3 linked regions of the Homo sapiens genome follow. The protein of the gene in region 3 purifies or fractionates together with the protein of the main gene of each other region. This does not show direct contact. Each region holds a gene or a part of one and is shown on either strand. Other genes may lie near its edges.

Evidence for each region.
Region 1: the proteins of SLC15A4 (region 3) and HAT1 purify together in Homo sapiens (affinity purification with mass spectrometry; 2 studies listed by BioGRID and IntAct, with this or other methods). This does not show direct contact.
Region 2: the proteins of SLC15A4 (region 3) and CLCN7 purify together in Homo sapiens (affinity purification with mass spectrometry; 2 studies listed by BioGRID and IntAct, with this or other methods). This does not show direct contact.

The regions. Positions count from the first base shown.
Region 1 is NC_000002.12:171,960,372-171,967,477, forward strand, and holds part of HAT1 (histone acetyltransferase type B catalytic subunit), read left to right. Parts: intron 1-4,966; coding exon 4,967-5,146; intron 5,147-5,415; coding exon 5,416-5,537; intron 5,538-6,037; coding exon 6,038-6,142; intron 6,143-6,471; coding exon 6,472-6,578; intron 6,579-7,106. UniProt on the Homo sapiens protein: Histone acetyltransferase that plays a role in different biological processes including cell cycle progression, glucose metabolism, histone production or DNA damage repair. Coordinates histone production and acetylation via H4 promoter binding.
Region 2 is NC_000016.10:1,444,386-1,451,085, forward strand, and holds the end of CLCN7 (H(+)/Cl(-) exchange transporter 7), read right to left. Parts: intron 6,282-6,700; coding exon 6,112-6,281; intron 4,943-6,111; coding exon 4,891-4,942; intron 4,709-4,890; coding exon 4,581-4,708; intron 4,382-4,580; coding exon 4,296-4,381; intron 4,100-4,295; coding exon 3,970-4,099; intron 3,330-3,969; coding exon 3,270-3,329; intron 3,184-3,269; coding exon 3,007-3,183; intron 2,702-3,006; coding exon 2,621-2,701; intron 2,333-2,620; coding exon 2,246-2,332; 3' UTR 550-2,245; downstream 1-549. UniProt on the Homo sapiens protein: Slowly voltage-gated channel mediating the exchange of chloride ions against protons. Functions as antiporter and contributes to the acidification of the lysosome lumen and may be involved in maintaining lysosomal pH.
Region 3 is NC_000012.12:128,820,915-128,828,283, forward strand, and holds the start of SLC15A4 (solute carrier family 15 member 4), read right to left. Parts: upstream 3,045-7,369; 5' UTR 3,030-3,044; coding exon 2,484-3,029; coding exon of another isoform or gene 2,334-2,483; intron 1-2,333. UniProt on the Homo sapiens protein: Proton-coupled amino-acid transporter that mediates the transmembrane transport of L-histidine and some di- and tripeptides from inside the lysosome to the cytosol, and plays a key role in innate immune response.

The sequences.
Region 1 (7,106 bases), on a different chromosome or scaffold from region 3:
AATAGGTTTAAGTGGAAACAATAAAAAAATTTTATTTTGGATGTTAGGTTTGAGTCTAATATATTAGGGCTTTGCAGATCATACTGCATAGATGGTCAGCAGCCATAACATCTGCTTAGAAGTTATTTCTTATTAGGATTATGTCATTACATTAATTTTTAATCATCCATTCTTTTACTTTTCCAAGCTGAATGCTCTAGTTGCACCTAAAATTCTTCAGTCACAATTAAGATGCCTATAAAATCTCTACTAGCCACCATCTTTAAAGGAAACATAATTCTGAATTTTACAATACAATAAACTTGATTATTCAGACACTGATGATTTTTTCATCTGGTTGTCCTTGACCTTTGCTTTTATTAACACCTCCTGCTCTGTGCTTGTAATGCCAGCTACTCTGTAGGCTGACTCAGGAGGATCATTTGAGGCCAGGAATTTGAGACCAGCCTTGGTAACATAATAAGACCCTGCCTATTAAAAAAAAAAAATGCTGAACGTGGTGGCTCAAACCTGTAATCCCAGCGCTTTGGGAGGCCGAGGTGGACAGGTCACTTGAGGTCAGGAGTTTGAGACTAGCCTGGCCAACATGGTGAAACCTCATCTCTACCAAAAGTGCAAAAATTAGCCAGGTGTTGTGGTGCGTGCTTGTGGTCCTAGCTACTCAGGAGGGTGAGGCAGGAGAATCACTTGAACTCGGGAAGTGGAGGTTGCAGGAAGCCGAGTTCGCGCCACTGTACTCCAGCTTGGGTGACAGAGCAAGACTCTGTCTCAAAAAACGAAAACAAAAGCTAGGCATGATGGCATGCTCCTGTAGTCCCAGCTACTTGGAAGGCTGAGACAGAAGGATCTCTTGAGCCCAGGAGGTCAAGGCTGCAGTAAGCTATGGTTACACTACTACATTCCAGCCTAGGTGACAGAGCAAGACTCTTGTCTTAAAAACAAAAACCTCCTGCCTTTTCTTGGGGGTAATTTCATTGCCTTTTAGTGAAGTAGTGGGTAACTAAGATTGTTGTCTTGCTAATTGCTAGCATTTCTGGGAAAAGTTTGGTACAGGAAGTTGAAATAGATGGATAAAGTTTGTATTAACTGTGAATTTCAGTTATTTTATCCTAGTGTCCCACTAATTGGATTGAATTTGAGAGGATATGAGAGCAGATTTTAAAAATTTTATGGAGTGTTTAGCCTCTTTCTAGGAAAATCCTACATACTTCCAGAAATTTCGAAAAAATCTTTGGTAGACTAGTAAAATTTCAAATTGTGATGGTGTTCTTGATAAGTAATACTTTTTATGAAATATCATAAAGAGCTTTAAAAGTATATATTGACAAGTTTATCTTGTTTAGTTCAAGTAGCAAAATACTAATGCAGTGTAAATAAACATAATATGACCTTTGTTTTTCCATTAGTGAAAAAGTTCACACTTTTAATTTCTCAACAATACATTCTGTAGTTAAAGCTTAAATATTATCAGAGAACATGAGATTGAGAACATTAAGTAGATACAGAATTTCTTTTGCTTGTTTTTTTTTTTTTTAGCATATTTTAGGTAGTCTTAGAATTATAGTTAAGTCTATGTACCACTTTAGCCAAGTAAAGAACAACATGTTACCACCTACTTAACGTGCCTTTAATTTCAATCTCAAAAATAACTAGACAAATTTAGACAAATGGTGCTGCTTAAGATAAGATGTTAGAGAGGTTATTGGGTTTTCAAATGTGTATAAATACAAATATAAACATTAAAAAAATAGATTACTAATTATCAGGCATATCGCTTTATTCAATAATGAGGAAATGCAAAAATTGCTCCATATGAACATGTTCATGTGTAATAAAGTACAGAACACTGGAACTTGAAATGACCATAGTTAAATAGTATACAATCTAAAAATATTTCATAATGACCCACCTACCAGAATATCTAACTAGAATACTTTTGCACTTTCCTTTTTAAAAATAAATTACCAAGCGTTAGGAAACCATTTGTAAGAGATGTCTTTGTTAATTAAATATATCAGGTTGTATTCTGGTTTCTTTTTTTGAGACGGAGTCTCACCCTGTCACCCAGGCTGGAGTGCAGTGGCGCAGTCTTGGCTCACTGCAACCTCCGCCTCCCAAGTTCAAGTGATTCTCCTGCCTCAGCCTCCCAAGTAGCTGGGATTACAGGTGCACACCACCACGCCCAGCTACTTTTGTATTTTTATTAGAGACAGGGTTTCACCATGTTGGCCAGGCTGGTCTCAAACTCCTGACTTCAGGTGATGTGCGTATTTTGGCCTCCCAAAGTGCTGGGATTATAGGTGTGAGCCACCATGCCCAGCCTGGTGTCTTTTTAAAAATTTTTTTGAAATTCTAGTTCCCTGGTGTGTCTAGTCAGCTGAATTTCTTACCCTTTCTATATTTCTGTATAATTTTAGTTGAAGTTTAGAATAATGCTCTGGAATACAGGGAATTTTTCAGTGATCTTCAGAAATAGATTCTAAACTTTTAGCCACAAACATTGGAATTAAAAAGTTTCTGTTCATTTTTAACTCTATTCAATTAACAATGATTAAATGAGGTCTTGCTCTTGTGCTGATTTTATTATCTGATCAGTAATCCAATCTGAAAGACGAATATTTTAAATTAAACTAAATTATATATTTGAGAAAAGAGTACAGATCTCTAAGACATGGTAGTCAGGATTTTTTTTTTTCTTAAAGCAGAATCCATTTAATAGAGAAATGCAGACATTTTCCCTTTAGTGAAGCGAAGTTGTAAATTCTAGGTTGAAGAACTATTTGGTTTTAAGTTGTATATTTTATGTAAGTATATCAGATACATATTTATATACATAACTATTTATAAATATATATTTATATAATTATATAAAGATTCCTTGCTTTAAAATTGCCCTTTGCCCCGTAAAAATTCTTAATGTGTAAACTTACACAAAGCAAACTATTTTATTTGAAGATATTTATTACAGGAAATAGACATCCTTTGAAGGCTGAAAGCCCTTTTTCAACTTTGTTGGGCTCAAACCTTCTGGTTGCTCTGCCCGCCACCAAAAGTGCTACTTGAAACTTAGAGTTTCTGAGAAGTCTTTGAAGTAGATTTGATACAAGATATGTAAAGTGATTTGCAATGCCTTCTTGAGAAGACAGGACATAAGGAAAGTTTTTAAAAGTTAAAATTATACATGCTATGAAAGTCTTAAAGTGATTTTTAAACTGATAGATTATAAATCCCTTTTTAAAAGTAGTTTTTCTTGGCTTTTTAAAAACCTTAACTAACATACTATACTGTTTTACTCATCACTACTTTGGATTTTAATTGCTACACAACACATCTATTACAGCTATCCCTCATTATGACAGTTTCCTTGATAGCTGTTGAAATTGTACTGATACTATAAAATATGCTTACGATGGCCTCTTCATGTTAGCAATTTCAAGGAAAAATATTTATCAAATAGTACTTTAAAAATAAGCAAAAACTGTCCTATGAAATGCAGTTTATTTGATCTAGAGTGTGAATGAGTTGCAAGGACTGATGTACATATTAGAAATAAACTGTTGGGCAAAATGCTGAAGAGCTATATTTTCAATAATAGGTCTTTTTTATACCTATAAACAAATTATATATAAATGTTGGTGGTACCAGAGCATTGAAAATAAAACTTGTTTGTGATAAACGTCATCACTGGTTCTCTATCCTGAAATGTAACTGAATCATAATAAAGTGCTATTCATCTGCAGGTGCATTGCTTCTACTTAGTTAAAAGATGGTTGAAAGGATAGGAATTAGTAGCATGTTGTATTAGCCTTTTGTAGTGTATTTTGTCCTAAGCATCTTAATTTCCCTGTTTTGAATGCTAAGTAGCAAGGGTCTTGGTTTAGAACTAATACCCATCATGCATGTAAACGGTATGAAAGAGCTGCTTAGTAAGTTAACACAAAGTGTTCTTGTGTCAGTCCTTGTGGAAATAGATACAATACAAACATTACAGCTGAACTCACGGCAAACTCCATTAAGTAAAAACCTGGCCTCATTGTTCAGGAAAAAGTTTGAATAGAATACAAGCTCATTTTGTTGAATGTAATGTCAGGCTTTTAGGGACTGTATTGAGGGATAAGGTTTTGTTAAGTTGAGACCAATTCATTAAGTTTTATTGCCTGGTGAGAAGCAGCAATACTTTATTGTAAGACTTCATCAAATATTCATGGTTAAAGAGAAGTAGTAAATGTATTCAATCAAGTGGTCTTTTGGGATTTTGAAAAGGATTATGAAGTCTGCTCAGCTGATAACATTGATAGAGGTTGTTTAACAAGGGTAATTTTAATCTCCGAGTTTAGTTTTGTTGTCCAGTCTTGTCTCTTTTTTACTGTCACAAATCCAGGTCTGTAAGAATTGTGTCACATTCTAAGGATAAAAGAATGATATATCCATTCATATAATTTATGTTATTTCCTAAATATGTATATTTTTAAGTTATCATCTTAGTTTGAGTTTGGCATATGAGGGAATTGTGACCCATCTAGTTGTGAGATTGCTATTCATTTGGTCAGACTCTAGTCTCATCTCACCACTGCTGGTGATCTTTTCATGTCTTGGATAATATGATTTCTTTGACACATATAAAATAATAAGCAACCTTTTGCCTTGGCCAGTTCAGACTGTCATGAAGGGGTATAGTCAGCTGTTTCTGCATAATGGAAATGTCCATAGCATTGCCCTTATTATTGTACTTGGTATCAGGTCACCTGCCTTCTCTTATTTACTTTTATATTATGCTCATCTCAGTTTTGTGTGATGCAGTTTGTGCACAGGAAGCTCATCCTTTTCCAATTCGCTGTGTGTTTACTTCTTTAGTTTTCAACCAAAGTTTTGTAATTTGTGTTGGTTTTGTCAGTTTTAAAGAAATAAACCATATTCAACTTAAAGTCGAATTTGTTATTAATTTTTTATATCCTTTATTCTTTAGGCAGATGATGTTGAGGGCAAAATTAGACAAATCATTCCACCTGGATTTTGCACAAACACGAATGATTTCCTTTCTTTACTGGAAAAGGAAGTTGATTTCAAGCCATTCGGAACCTTACTTCATACCTACTCAGTTCTCAGTCCAACAGGAGGAGAAAACTTTACCTTTCAGATATATAAGGTAAAGATAAATCTAAATATTTATTGAGTAAAGTTCTATTTGCCTGAAACCTGTATGTAGTTTTGTTGTCAGTGATTTATTCTAACTGCAGTAAACAAGTTTTAATCAGCATTATAAACCAAGATCTATTTTGTGTGTATGTCTGTATCTATGTTCACATCTTAATCTGAGACTTCTAAACATTTTCCCACAGGATAATTTTGTGTTCTGCGGACTTTCACTTACCTTTGTGATGAGTTTCACCTGACTTTTCCTGGCTTTTTCCCTAGGCTGACATGACATGTAGAGGCTTTCGAGAATATCATGAAAGGCTTCAGACCTTTTTGATGTGGTTTATTGAAACTGCTAGCTTTATTGACGTGGATGATGAAAGATGGCACTACTTTCTAGTGTAAGTACAGTTCTAAAGCAACAGTAGACCTTATTACCTCCACAAAGCCAGCATTTTAATTGTGGCAGCCCAATTATTGGGACAGTATAATGATATTTTTCCCAGGAAAGAAAAACTATTGTTTATGAGGCTTGAGTTTTCCTTCATTATGCTTTGGGAGACCTTGAGAATAGAGCTGAATTAAATGCTGTTGTCCGTTAGGGCCCTGAATGTAGGCTTAAACAGTAAAATGAGCTTTGCCTGTGTTTTCTTTTACTTGCCACCTATTCATCTTTATAATAGGCAAGTGCACTGAAGTGATGTAAAGAGGTCTGATTTATCCAAGTTGCTGCACACCAATTAAGTGAATTGTACATTCAGAACATAGCAGGTGTACCCATTGGGCCCTCACAGAGTAGCTTGCTGACACTGAAAATTCAGTCAGAGAATGGAAAAGAAAATGGACACTGCATGGGAGCGCGACTGTAATTGACCTGCTTGGCTTTCTGTTTTATCTGCAGATTTGAGAAGTATAATAAGGATGGAGCTACGCTCTTTGCGACCGTAGGCTACATGACAGTCTATAATTACTATGTGTACCCAGACAAAACCCGGCCACGTGTAAGGTAATTGGCAGTATAACACGTGCCTTGTCTTTTATTTCAGAAGAAGGAACTGCTGAAGTTTCCAATACTTGTTATAATAGTGTTGATTTGTTTAAAAAAAAAATCACTATTATTCATGGGCTATGTACTGATTTATTTCATTGTTCCCTTTGAAACAGTGTAGAAGATTAAACTAATTTTGAGTATCTTGATAATTTTTGGGTATCTCAAAGGTGGATTGAAAAAAAGATCACACAAACTTTAAAGTGTTTGTAATACTATAGTGATCTGCAGGTTTTAAACTGGTCATGTTATGATATTTTAATTTTAAAATAATTTCTTTACTGTAGTCAGATGCTGATTTTGACTCCATTTCAAGGTCAAGGCCATGGTGCTCAACTTCTTGAAACAGTTCATAGATACTACACTGAATTTCCTACAGTTCTTGATATTACAGGTATGTAAAATTTGATTTGTTACTGAAAGAGCCTTTCTAAAAATGTCTTCTTACTGATTGATTTTATTTTTGTCAGAAATAACTATTTTAAACAGCAACATTTTCCTAGGGTGTTTAAGCCATCTAAAGATGGCTTAAGTTTATGTTTTAGAGCATAAGCCTTTGTGGGGATTGGATTACATCCCTAACTGTGAAGTGCATAATGGAACAAATTGAAGATAATGAGCTGAATATATATGGGGAAGTCTTGGTCAGGCGTAAATACGTTGAAAGTATGGTATAACTTATTTGTTCACTTTATTTGGCAAACAGTTGCATTATTTAGAGGCAGCCTGCACTTTAATTTACATGTAGGGGCAGAATATTATAAACTTTACTGAGAAAAAAAGTCAAGGTAAATACTTCTTGAATAGAATACACATTTCCTAAAGTGTGTGTTTTGTATTCCTAAAATGCATGCCTTCACAACAGTAGTAGATAAGGTGAAATGTAGGCCTATTTGTTTTGGAAATGTCTTTCAGTATGGAT
Region 2 (6,700 bases), on a different chromosome or scaffold from region 3:
TTGCCCAGAGCTGGGCACAGGCCAGGGGGGTCAGGAGCCAGAGGAAGTCCCGTGAGAGCTCTGGGCCTTGAGGGACGAGCTGCTGCCCTCGTCTGGCTGCCTTCTCAGGGTCCCCAGGGAGGCAGGTGTGGGGCAGCGGGGCCGTTCCAGAACCTTCCTTCTCTCCCCAGAACCTCACGGCTTCACAGCCCAACTGCCAATGGAACTCTAGCCCTCAGCTCTCCCACTCCCGCAGGGCCCCCCAACTGCCTGCTTCTGGATGGATCTGAGGGGCCCCACTCCCGAGAGGGCGCAGACACGTGTCCTCTGGCAAAGGGGACTTCTTCAGCTGCCGAGGGAGGGGAAGGAGGCCCTGACGAGGCCTGGGCACGCCGGGAGGGACGCTGGGAGCAGGGAGGCCGAGAGCCCCAGGACACCCCGGACACAGCCAGGCCCACGTCCGAGCGGAGCCCGAGGCCTGGGCAGCGCCATCGGGGTGAGGGGCACAGCCGGGCTCCACGGGAACCCATCTTGCTCAGCAGCCCCATTAAAAGGCAAGAAGCAGCGATGTGAATCCTAACCGCTGATTTTATTTAACCGAATATATCCAAAATATGATCACTTCCAGGTCCTCAGTACACAACCACCACGAGGGAAACCCAGACCTAGGTTTCCGGCGCCGACTCTGAGGCCCGGGAGTTTTCTTCTTGCGTCACCCCAGCGTGGGCACCCCGGCCCGCCCCCCTCCACCTGGAGCGCCTCTGCCTTGCCCCCAGACCCACCAGCCAGGAGCCAGAGGAGGGAGGCTGAGGGGCGGGGACGAGGAAGAGGATGTGGCTGGTGCCCTGGGTGGCCGCAGCCGCTGTCTTTCACGCCTTTCTCACTCCACACGGTGCCCCGACCCCAGGGTCCCGAAAGTCCCAGGCTGTTGGACGTGGTCTGGGTGGGGTGGGAGGGACGACGCTGGCAAAGGCGGGCTGAGAGGATTTCTTTATTTCGCGTTCAGACCCAACACACTCGGACACCTTGGGGCCCTGTGAGGGCTAAGCAGGGTGGTGGCGTCAGCTCCCGGGGAGGCCCCACTCCCTGGGGAGGAAATACACGGCAGGGGGCCGCACCCAGCCCCCCACGGAGGGACCCGTGTTGCTCTAACAGGGACACTGAAGTTGCCTCTGCCGCCCCGTGAGGGGCCTGTGGCGGCCCCAGACCCAGCCCAGCCAGGCCAGAGGAGCCTCCCAGGGGCCCTCAGGTGGTGAGGTGGGGGCTTCCCGGCCCCGGTGCCCACCGGCCCTTCTAGCTGCCTGTGCTGGGCCAGGTGTCCTCTGAGGCCGGCAGGAGTCTGGCCCCCGCTGCACCTGCGCTTGGTGGCTGGCAGGGGCGGGGTAGGGAGGTCACCCTCGAGGCCGGGGTCCCCATGTGCTAGGGGAAGACCTGCCTTCCCAGCCAGTGTCCACAGGGCAGCAATTCCACGCTCTGAGGCTCAGGGACCAAGGCAGGGCTGGGTGTGGGGCCCAGACTCCAAGCTCTGGGGGTTGGGGGACCAAGGCAGGGCTGGGCATGGGGCTCAGGGCCTTGGAGGTTTTTCTCAGCTCTCAACATCACAGCACAGGGCCCGTGAGTCACCCCAGTCCTCTGGGCCTGTGTACCCAAGCCGGATGCAGGCCGGGGAGTGCACGTGGGGCTCCTCTGTGGCGCCAGTGTGAAGCTGCTCTCCGGGGCGGTCGCAGCCTCCAAACCCTGGTGCTACGAGTCCGTGCCTCAGGCCCAGGGACCACAGGCCGTCTGCTCATGGCTGAAAATGAGGCCAAGCAGCTCCCAAGTCTCGAAGACTCCACTGGTGTGGAGGCAGAGGGGCCCTTCCAGGGCAGGGCAGCCCTCGGGGCAGCAGCAGGGGCAAGGGCTCTGTCTCACGCACACGGGCACAGGCACGCAGGTGCCGGCCCTGCCGCTGGCTCCCAAGAGGCCGATAGCCCGGTAGGGAGGTCACACACACACAGCTGATCCCTGGAGGTAAAGAAACCTAGACGAGGAGAGTGGAGGCTGGGCCTGCGCAAGGAGGCGCCAAGGGGGGAGACCACTGCCCACAACAGGGTCAGTCCCGCGAGAGGGTCAGTTCCGCGCCTGCCGCCTGCCCGCCCAGCTGCAGGGTGCTCGCCATTGCCACTGCTGGGGAGCATGGTTTGGGCCGAGAAACCAGTGACTCCGGGAGGAAATGCAGAAGGGCCGGGGTGCCAGCGCCAGTGCCCATTATGGGCAGGGCTGGGCCTCACGTCTGGGCCAGCGAGAGCTCCTCCAAGCCTCTCTTTCCCAGGCGGTACCTGGCGAGGTCCTTCCTGGTCACCAACCCGACAACCTGCAGGACAAGTCCAGGCCACAGTGACACACGGGTCGGCTCCCGCCTGCCTGTGGAGCTCCCTGCCTTGTGTGTGGCTGGGGCAGCACAGGCAGGGGGCCCTGGGGGCTTCAGCACAGCCCCCGAGCTGAGCACGGGGCTGGGGAGGGGTGCAGCCATGGGGCATGGGCCGACTCGGTGCTGGGTCCTGTGCTTCCGTGTCCCCTGCCGGGAGCTGAGAGTAAGCACGGGCAGGAGGCAGAGGGGAGCCCTGCACGGCATGCCTGCACCCCCACCGCCCCCGCTCACCTGATTGCGGTTGTCCACCACCACCAGGTGCCGCAGGCCCAGGGCCCGGAACAGCTTGAACACCCGTGGGAGCGACGCCTCCTGCAGCAGGGGCACAGCTGTCAGTGCCCGCCCACACAGCAGAGGCAGGCGGGACCCTCACCCAAGCTGGCTCCCTGCACCCCCCACCACGGCGTCCAGGCACGTCCTGAGCCCCCACGCCCGTCTGGCCAGCCCCCTCAGCCCCTTGACTTCAGCTCTAAAGCCTGCCAGGCCCTTCACAGGAGACAGAGTCACCGAGTCCTCTCCGCTGTGGCCCCCCCCGGCTGCCCCTCCCCGAGGCTCTGGACCCCACCCCCTGCTGTTCAGTCCCAGGCCCCACGCCCATGCCCATGCCCTGCACATGCCTGGGGCACCGTGTAGGGGGAGGGGTTCATGAACTCGGAGAGGTCCATGGTGCACTCCCGCTCGTCCTGGGACACGTGGATGGACTGGATGGGTGGGAAGCGCGGGTAGGCGTCTCGGAAGTCCTTCAGCCTCAGGCGCCGCTGTACCAGGCCCAGGTTGGACCGCTCCACAAACACCTGCGGGCGGCAGAGCCCTGTGTCAGGCACCCAGGCAGCACCCCCGGGGCCCCCACCCGCCCAATGGCCCGGAGCCTGGCACGCACCTTGTGCTTTAGGAGAACGATGAGCTGGGAGCGCAGGATCAGGCCCTGGAGCCGGGCAGGCTGCAAGACAGGCCCGCGGTCAGGGCCACGGGCCCGAGGGTGGGAGGCTGCGCTGGAATGCTGTGTCGGGCCCCGCTCTGACCCTGTTCCGGCCAGATTTCCCATCTGGGCATGGGCCCCGTGTCGGTGGCTACCTGCTCACACCAGCCTCGCCATGGCATCCCACACGCACAATGCCACGGGACCCAAGGATCGGCGACAGGGTAGCGGGGCCTGACCGCGCACAGCAGAGAGCCAAGGGCCCAGGGATGGTGGCTTTGCTGCAGGGCAGATGCAGCCCCACTGGGTCCCAATAAAAACCAACCTCCAAACACCCAGTGTCCACGTCTAAAAGACACACAGCAGTGGCCGAGCTGTGTGTCCTGTCAGGGCCTCCTGACAAAGTCACGGCCCCCAGTGCCACGGCTCTCAGCCCAGCCTGGGTGCCAACCCCAAGACCCTGCCAGGCCGCAGCCCCCCCCACCAGCCTCAGCGTCCACACAGCCCTCCATGGCTGCACACTCAGCTTCCGGCACTCCTGGAACTGCCAGTGCACCCAAACGTGCAGCTTCCCCATCCTGCAAACCTTGCCGTGTGCTTCCCACCAATGGACTCGACAGAGGTCACATAGGCAGGACCCTGTCTATGGGGTGCCCGGTACCTGGGTGTCATCGGCATGCTCCACCACGGGGAAGCCGTTGTGATTGGACGCCGTGTCGCTCAGCACGTCCACAATGACGCCGACCTTCTCACGCCGCCTCAGGCAGGTCACTGGTGTGCTCATCACCTCCCTGCCGGAGGAGCCCGGCCACACATGCCCGTCACACGCCACCAACTCCCACAGTTACCTCTGCGGGCTGGTGAGGTGTGAAGCCGCTGGACAGGAAACGCGGGGCTGCCTGGAGCCCGCAAGCCGTGCACCCTGCCCCTGTGCAACAAGAGGCCGCTGGACACCCTCCCCACCCACAGGTGTCCTGGGCGCTGTACCTGGCAGTGAGTGAGTGTGAGGTGACCGGGGCCTCCCAGTGCAGGAAGGGCACACTCTGCAGCTGAATGTGCATGTCGTACAGGCCCTGCGGGCGGGGCGGGAACACAGGGCTTGAGGAGTCCACACCCACCCCTGGAGCCCCGAGCCTACCCCTGGGAGCCCAGAGGCCGCCCCCAGAAACCCTGAGCCTACCCCCCGGGACCGGCTGTTTGGAGGCTCACAGGGGCCCCTCCCCTATGGCAGCACCCACGCTCTCAGGGTGAGGCTTCGAGGCCCTGGCGCACCTCAATGAAGACGTCGCCCACGATCTTGGCGGTCATGAGCACCAGCATGATGGGGAAGCCGTAGGTCACGTTGCTGGTGGCCTCCATCATGATGACGGTCAGGCTCAGTGTCATCCGCACAATCCCGCCTGCGGGAGCCATCATGAACCCCAGCACGTCCACCCTCCTGGCTCAGGGTCACGTGGCCACTGCCTTCTCTGCAGCACCCATCCCATCCACCTGCTCCCAGACCCTAGCCCCGCAAGGACAGCCATGGCCCCCTCCAGACCCCGTGGAGCTCCCCACCCATCGGGCAAGAGCTGGGACATACCCAGCTGGGCAGCAGCTCCCATCAGGGCGTATTTGCCGGGGTCCGCCCAGATCTGTGGGAGGTGACACGGAGGAGGTGTCAGTGTGGTGGCAGGCCCAAACCCACCAAGATACACAGACGGAGGAGGCCCTGCCCAGGCCCAGCAGCCCCACAGCCAGGAACAAACCTCGTGGCCGCGTACATACACACAGAACAACCTAGCACAGTACACCCTGCTGCGGAGGCTGCATCCTTGGCCTGAACCAGGCGCTCAGCACCCGAGCAACAGGGGAGTGGCAGGCATGGAGGATGCAGAGGGCACAGTCACCACGCAGCAGCCCAGGCCAACTAGGGAGCACCGTCCAGCATGAGGAGTGAAACCCCGGCACACACGACACAGAGAGCCCCGGGAACATCAGGCTGGGCCACAGAACCCAGGCATGGAGGCTGCAGAAAGCGGGGCACGAGGGTCGGTGGGCACAGGGTTTCCATTCTGGGATGACGGAACATTCTAGAAGTGGTAGTGACGGCCGCACTGCCTCGTGAACGTGAGAAACGCCGCTGAACTGCCCTCTTTAAAACGATGAGTTTTACGGTATTTGAATCATGTTTCAATTTTAAAAACCAAACCAAACCCTTGTGCGGAGGGAGATGGGCAGAGCACACGGGCCTGGGGAGCAGGAGTGGGCGCTTCCTGCCGGGGATGAGAAGCATGGCCGGGGGCTTCCTGCCAGGGCCTCTTACAGGTTTTCAGTCTTATTTAAGCGACTGAAATGAGAAACAGAAGACACATAAGAGAACCCAGTCCCAGCAGAGGCAGGCAGAGAAGGAAGGCCTGCGGGGGCTGAGGTCTGGAGGGCAGTGTATGCCGCTCTGGCCCCCGGCCTCACAGAGAGCAGCCCTGGCCGGACATCCACCCCATGGAGTCTAGAAACAGCTCTGCAGCAGCCCACAATCACCTCTGCTTTTCATCACATTCTCAAGAATAAGGACACGAGCCTCCGCCCCCTACCTTCGCCTGGTCCAGACTCCACACATGGGCTGCGCTGCCACAGTACACGCTGCCACCACAGCAGGACAACGCCCACGGCCCGTGAACCACGCGAGGACAACGCCCACGGCCCGTGAACCACGTGAGGTGCGACACTTTTGTCCTGCCCTGGGACTTCTGCTCCGGCCCGCGATGCCGCAAGACCTGGCTCAGCTGCAGGGCCCCACAGCCTCCCCTCCGGCCCCACTCACCGCCGCCCCCGTGAGGTAGGACAGGGAGATCCCAAAGAGCCGGCCCCAGGCAGCCCCGATGAGCAGGGACGGGATGAAGACCCCGGCAGACACCGTGAGCCCGTAGGTCCAGCAGGCCAGGAAGAAGTAGACCAGCGTGAACAGGCCGAGGGTCAGGGGGTTGTAGGAGCCTAGGAGAGAAGAGGGGCTGACGGGGCCTCCACGACTCCCGCCTCCGCAGGACTGCCCTGCCCCGCTGCCCAGTCTCGGGCCTCACAGTCACCTTCCAGGAGCCCAGCAACCTGAGCTCCCGAGCCCAGCGGTCCCCAGAAGGCTCCCTGTTCTCAGCCTCCCTGGGAAGCAGAAAGGCTAAAAGGATCCCATGGGGAGGCCACAGGGGAAGAGGCTCTGCGGGGCCCTGATGCCAGCAGAAGCAGGAGCCGCGTCCAGCGGGGCGGCCCAGCTGGGTCTAGCAGCGCCAGGTCTACACTCCATGGGTGTGCACCGTGGTGCAGCTCGCAGCCTGGCTCCGGGAAGAGGGTGCCCCCCACAGCCTGGGGTTCCTTTCCTGGAGCAGGCAGCACTGTACTGCGTGCAGGGCGGGTGAGAC
Region 3 (7,369 bases):
TAGTGTTTGGGTCATGGGGACGGATCCCTGAAGAAAGGCTTGGGGCTGTCACAGGAGTGAACTCTCCTATGAGAGAGGTCGTTTACAAGCCTGGCACCTCCCTCCCCTCTCTCACTTCCTCTAGTGCATGTGATCTCTACACAGCTGGCTCCCATTCACAAGGCCCTCAGCAGTGCAGATGCTGGCGCCCTGCTTCTTGTACAGCCTGCAGAACCCTAAACCAAAGAAACATCTTTCCATTATAGATGACTGAGCCTCAGGTATTCCTACATAGGAACACAAACAGGGAGACAACCTGCCAGTACTTCCTGCCCATTCTACTTCCATAGCTGAACTCCATCCATCCACTTCACCCACCTCCACTGCCTCCACTCTAGTTAGGAGAGACTCCCACCTCATGTCCCTAATGTCACCACTTCCTACACAACCCATTCTCTACAAGCATCCGCACACTTCTGTGAAGGGGCAGGCAGTTCACATTTTGAGTTCTATGAGACATCTCGTCTCCATCACAGTTACTCAATTCTGCCACTGCTTAGTGAAAGCAGCCCCAGTGTAGTGGCTGTGTTGCAGAAACAGGTGGGGCTATGTTCCAATAACGCTTTATTTATGGAGATTGAAATTTGATTTTCATAAAATTTTCACTGGTCACAAATGATCCCGTTTCCGACCACTTAAAAATGTAAGAACTAGCTGGGCGCCGTGGCTCATGCCTGTAACCCCAGCACTTTGGGAGGCCGAGGCAGGCAGATCACAAGGTCAAGAGATCAAGACCATCCTGGCCAACACGGTGAAACCCCGTCTCTACTAGAAATACAAAAGTTAGCTGGGCACAGTGGCGTGCACGTGTAGTCTCAACTACTCAGGAGGCCGAGGCAGGAGAATCGCTTGAACTCAGGAGGTGAAGGTTGCAGTGAGCTGAGATCGCGCCACTGCACTCCAACCTGGCAACAGAGCGAGACTCCGCCTCAAAAAAAAAAAAAAAAAAGAAAGAAAGAAAATATTAAGAACCATTCTTAGCTTGTGAATCCTCAGAAAATAAGAAGCAGACCTGACCTGCTACCCCAGCTGTAGTGCCTGCTCTGCACAAATCACTCCCTGCTGGAACCCAGTAAAGCTCTCGACTGTATCCCCAACGCTTTAACACTCCTCACATGATCCGGCCCCAGCCTTCCACCTCACTTCCCACTTTTTTTTATATTTTCTGAAACGATCTGACTTTGCTATTGCTCTTAAAGGCGGCCTATTCTGCATATAATACTTGGTGGCCACGTCCTTGCCCCTCCTGAAGAGCTGCAGTGGTTCCTCCCTCACTTCTTGGCAGTTACAGTTGCAGGGGAGCAGCTTGATGCTAACTTGATTCAAACTCATTTTCATCTGAGCTTTCCGACCCAACCTAGCCCGTAACTCCTTTAAAGCCACGAAGACGCAATATGAGTGTTTTCCCACTTCTTTGTAAAGGAAGCTAAGGCAACAACGGGGGCTTCCCCTTCCCTCAGCTTCCTGGCCCAGGGCCCTGCACCTGCGAATCCCCATGTCTGGAAAGCTCCTCAAACAACTGCTCTTTCCTAGCCTTCTGGTCTGAACTTACAGGGCCTGAACATAGAAGGGTCCCGTTCATTTATTTTTTATTTATTTATTTATTTTTATTTGGAGACAGAGTCTCGCTCTGTCGCTCAGGCTGGAGGAGTGGAGTGGCGCGATCTCGGCTCATCGCACCTCTGCCTCCCGGGTGCAAGCGATTCTCCTGCCTCAGCCTCCCGACTAGCTGAGAGAACAGGTGCCCGCCACCACGCTCGGCTAATTTTTGTATTTTTAGCCAGGCTGGTCAGGCTGGTCTCGAACTCCTGACCTTAGGTGATCCACCCACCTCGGCCTCCCAAAGTGTTGGGATTACAGGCGTGAGCCACTGCGCTCAGCGTATTTTTTAAATTTTATTTATTTATTTTTTTGAGGTGGGGTCTCACTCTGTTACCCAAGCTAGAGTGCACTGGTGTGACCCTAGCTCACTGCAGCCTCCGAAACTCGTAGGCTCAAGGAATCCTCCTTTCTCTGCTAGGACTACAGGTGTGCGCCTCCACGGAGGGCAAATTTTTAAATTTTGGTAGAGATGAGGTCTCACTGTGTTGCCCAACCTGGTCTCAAAGTCCTGGGCTCAAGAGATCCTCCCGCCTCGGCCTCCCAAAGTGCTGGAATTACAGGCGTGAGCCACCGCGCCCGGCCTCTCTTTTCTTTAAAGCCACTGTGGCCATCACTGTGTGTGTAGACCTCACCCCGCCCCAGGCAAACCCCTTCCAGCACCCATCACACCGGTACCTCCAGTCTTGGCCCACCTGCTGGCGGGATTCCTCGGCACTAGACAGAAGCCCCCCGGGGCAAGGGGCTCCCTCCGCGGTCAGAGGCAGGGACTGGGGCAGGGGAAGAGGCTGGGGCTGGGCAGGGGCTGGACAGGGACAGGGACAGCGCGCGGGGGCGCGGCTCACCTGGTCGGCGCCGAAGGGCGTGATGTTGGCCTTGACGGTGGCCACGCCCAGGCCCACCAGCACCAGCCCCGCGAAGGTGGCCGGTGAGCAGCAGCGGGCGGCGGCGTCGGGACCAGGCGCCGTGCAGTTGAGCAGGCGCGCGGAACCGCAGAGCGCGGCTCGCGTGGCGGGCGCGGCCAGCAGCGGGAAGGCCAGCATGCCCAGCAGGTAGAGCGCCAGGCTCAGCAGGATGGCGCGCGCCCGGCCCAGCCGCGCGTCGGCCAGCCAGCCTCCGAACGGCGAGCCCAGGTAGGTGAGGCCCATGAAGAGCAGCAGCGCCTCGCTGGCCTGCGCGCCCTCCCAGCAGAACGGCGCCCCGTTCAGGAATAGCACCAGGTTGGACGTGATGCCGTAGAAAGCGGCGCGCTCCAGCAGCTCCGTCAGCAGCACGGCCCCGCACGCCGCGCGCCGGCCCGCGAACGCCCCAGCCGCCGCCGCGGCCGCCGCCGCCCGCCGCGCGCCCAGCAGCGGCGCCCGCTCGCCCGCACCGCCCCCAGAGCCCTCCATGCGACGCCGCCAGCTGCCTCGCCCCGCCGCCGGGTCACCTGTCCCAGAACCCAGGGCCGCCGCCCTTCTCGCGAGACTGCCGGGCCTGAGATGTCCCTATTGGGCGGGCTCGCCGCTGCTCAACGCCCCACTCGCCGGAACTTCCGGCCCCGCCCCGGGCACTAGGCGAGGAGGTGGCCGGTATTCTGGATCACTGCGTGTCTTGGGGAGCTTGGGATTCCGCAGCTTGGCGGCCGAGAGCCTTTGTTTGCCTTTTTGAGACAGGGTTTCCCTCTCTCGCCCAGGCTGGAGCGCAGTCATGCGGTTACGCCTCACTGCAGCCTCAGCTTCCCAGGATCAAGCGGCCCTCCCACCTCAGCCTCCCGGGTAGCTGGGACCGCAGGCGCTCGCCGCTGCCTGTGGCTAATTTTTAAACAGTTTTTTGAAATGGGGTCTCGCTTTGTTGCTCAGGTTGGTCTCGAACTCCTGGCATCAAGCGTTCCTCACGTCTCAGCCTCCCATAGTGTTGGAATTACGTGCATGAGCCACTGCAGGCAGTCGGACTAAGGGAGTTTAAACAAAGAAGCCGGAGCCTGGCCCTCTTCGGGCTTCGGTGGGGCCCAGTAGGCAGCCAAAACTCACACTGAGACGGCGGCTGCTCTCCAGGCGGGTTTGCTCAGGCTGCCCCCGTGCTCCCTGCCCTGGGCTTCAGTCCTGGAGAGGACCCGGTTTCTCAACCCGTGCATCGTTGGCACTTTGAGCGACGGGACTGTCCTGTGCGTTGCACGATGTTCAGCAGCAGCTTTGGCCTCTGCTATCCACTAGGGGCCAGTTCCACCCCCTAGCACCTCAGGTTAACAACCGAAAATGTCTTCTAGACTTTGCCGAAGGACTCCTGGGGGCAAATACGCCCCCATTGAGACTCACTGGCTTAGAACAAGGCAAGCTCCAGCCTGTTTCAGGCTTTCCCAGAGACTGCCCCTACACCATCTATGGTTGCATGGCTGGCTTCTCATCCTTCAACCTTCCACCGAAGTGTTGACTTCAGAGAAACATTTTTTTCACTAGCCTGTCCAAGGCCCGAGTATCCCATTCCATCATGTTACTCTTTTCTCCTTATTACCTGTTACATTTTTTAATTTATTCGTTTATCTCCCCAACCTGCATGTGTTAACAGGTGTAAGCTTCCTGATGGCAGGATTCTCTTGTGTTTTGTTCCTCACTGTGCCCCCTGCCTCTGGGACAGCGCCTGGCACATAGTGGAGTGAAAGAGTGCCGCCCAAAAATGGCCCTCAGCATGGCTTCAGAAATTGAGACCCCGGCCTGGGATGGTGGCTCACGTCTACAATCCCAGCACTTTGGGAGGCCGAGGCGGACGGATCACGAGGTCAAGAGATCGATACCATCCTGGCCAACATGGTGAAACCCCGTCTCTACTAAAAATACAAAAATTAGCTGGGCGTGGTGGCAGGCGCCTGTAGTCCCAGCTACTCAGGAGGCTGAGGCAGGAGAATCGCTTGAACCAGGGAGGCAGAGGTTGCAGTGAGCCGAGATTGTGCCACTGCATTCCGGCCTGGTGACAGAGTGAGACTTCGTCTCAAAAAAAAAAAAAAAGACAAAAAAAAAAGAAATTGAGACCCCGGCCTGGGATGATGGCTCACGCCTATAATCTCAGCACTTTGGGAGGCTGAGGCAAGAGGATTGCTTGAGCCCGGGAGGTAGAGGCTGCATTCAGCAGTGAGGGCATCACTGCACTCCAGCCTGGGTGACATAGTGAGACCCTGTCTCAAAAAAAAAAAAAAAAAAAGGCAAGAAAGAAAGGAATCGTGATCCACAGCTGCTGCAATGATTCAATTAGTGTAAGACCACCTCCTCTTCCTTCATCATTCCCTCCAGCTAAGATGAGGGTGGAGCCAGTAGCTGGGAAGTTGGCTTGCCAGTAGGTCATCTGGAGAAGTAATCCTGCCAGTAAGTCTTGAAGTTGCATGCATTCTCTTTTTAAAAAACTTTTTTAAATGTCCGACAGATAGACTGATGGTCAGCACAGTGCTGCCACACAGCAGGCAATATATATTTAATCAATGTCTAAGGAGAGAATAATTGAATGCCCGAATTGGACCTTTGCCACCTGTCTGTTGATGCTTGTCATTTCCAGCTGTCAGCTCAAATATCACTTTCCTAACCCTGCCACACTAGGTTAGCTCCCCGTTTTTATGGCCTTGGAACTCCCTATACTTTTTTCCCACAGCACCGGTTATAATTTATACTTATTTTGTGCAACTATTGAATGCCTGTCTTCAAAGCTGGGATGGCCGGGATCTTTGTTTTAACCACGATTGTAGTTCTAGAGGCTGGCACAGCACTTGCCAATGATAAATAGGTATTAGATTGAACTGGATGAGTGAATGACTGACCATTTGTTGAATGTAAATGATGCAAGTCACCTTATGTTCTCATATATGTGTGTGTATACACATATGTATATCTGTGTGTATATATGTATATATGTGTGTATATAAGTGTGTGTATATGTGTGCATGTATACATGTGTATATATATGTGTCTATACATGTTCAAGGGCATATATTAGTATTTTAACTTATTATTGGATACTAATATATGTCCTTGAACATGTACATATAGACACACACACACACATATGTGCCATTTTTTTTTTTTCTTTTTGAGATGGAGTTTCGCTCTTGTAACCCAGGCTGGAGTGCAGTGGCACAGTGGCTCATGCCTGTAATCTCAGCACTTTGGGAGGCCAAGGCAGGCAGATCACTTGAAGTCAGGAGTTAAAGACCAGCCGGGCCAACATGGTGAAACCCCATCTCTACTAAAATTACAAAAATTAGCCAGGCGGTAGTGTTGCGCACCTGTAATCCCAGCTACTCAAGAGGCTCAGGCAGGAGAATCGCTTGAGCCTGGGAGGTGGAGTTGCAGTGAGCCGAGATCACGCCACTGCACTCCAGCCTGGGTGATAGAGCGAAACTGTCTCAAAATAAAAAATAAAAAAGAAAGCAATAGAACTCAGACTTCAATGAAAGGCTTATATCTAATTATGAGTCCAGTGCTGCTTCCACTTTGCAGTTGGTAGAGGAGACAGAATCTTTGAGTATTTTTTCTAAGACTGATAGGTTTGACGCTCAGGCAAAGTCTAGAGTAAAATTAACATTAAACATGGAATGAAAGCAAAGCAAATGATTTGAATCATGTGATAACCCAGTGTCCAAACAGTGCTCAATACACTCTGCCATTTTTGAATGATAGTAAACTAATCCGATTGCATTGCCTCATTTGAGAAAACTAAAGCTAAGTTTAAAAAAACAAAAAAGTGAGCCAAGACCACATCTGGCAAGATCACATTTATATGCAATGGCCAGAATAGGCAATAGGCAAATCCATACAGACAATGCAGATTAGTACAGTTTCCTGATACTGGGGGAGGGGAGGGGAAGATTGGTGCACATCTCTGTGAATGTACTAAAAAACCACTGAATTCTACAGTTTATATAAGTGAATTATATGGTATGCGAATATGTCTCCATAAAGCTGGTACCAAAAGAAAGTGAACTAATAGTTACAGTTTGAAAGGTTTCACATATAAATTTGGATGCCTTGCTATTTGGGGAAAATAAATGTGAGCTCTGGCAATGCTGGACTTGTGATTACCTGTTACATTAGTATGATCCCATCACTTTGAACCATGCCCCATAGTATTCAAGCCTTTATGTATTCCTCAGAGATCACACCACAGGGCCTGTCCTGTGACCTGTTTTGACCAAGAGAATACATCAAAAGTGTCTCTGGGCCTGGTCTGGGCACAGGCTTAAAGTCTGACACCTTCCACTTTCATGACTGGGGTGTCCGGAGCCATCATATTAGACGTCCACCTGCCTTCCATCATATGTTGAGGAGGAGTCTGCAACTATGTGGAGAGGGGATTCTCAGCATTCCAGATGACCTGCCTACTGAATGCAGCCATGTGAAGACCAGCAGAAGAACCACACAGCTGAGCCTCAACCCAGATAGCAGAATTGTAAACAAATAACATGGTTGTTCTTTTAAGCCACTAAATTCTGGGGCAGTTTATTATGTAGCAACAGGTAATGGAAACACATTTGCTTCCCCCTGTAGCCACAATCTGCTGACACTCAGCAGCAGCCACTGTCTTTAGATGGCAGACACTTTCTAGCTTTCCTAAACCCTCCCCACTCACTATTGTCTTATTTTTGTTATCATAGAGAAAATTCTCCATATCTGCATAGTCCAGCGCAGGAGCCACTAGCTATGTGTGGCTATTGAAACTAGTTAAAATTAAATAAAATGAAAAATTCTGTTCCTCAGTTACACTAGCC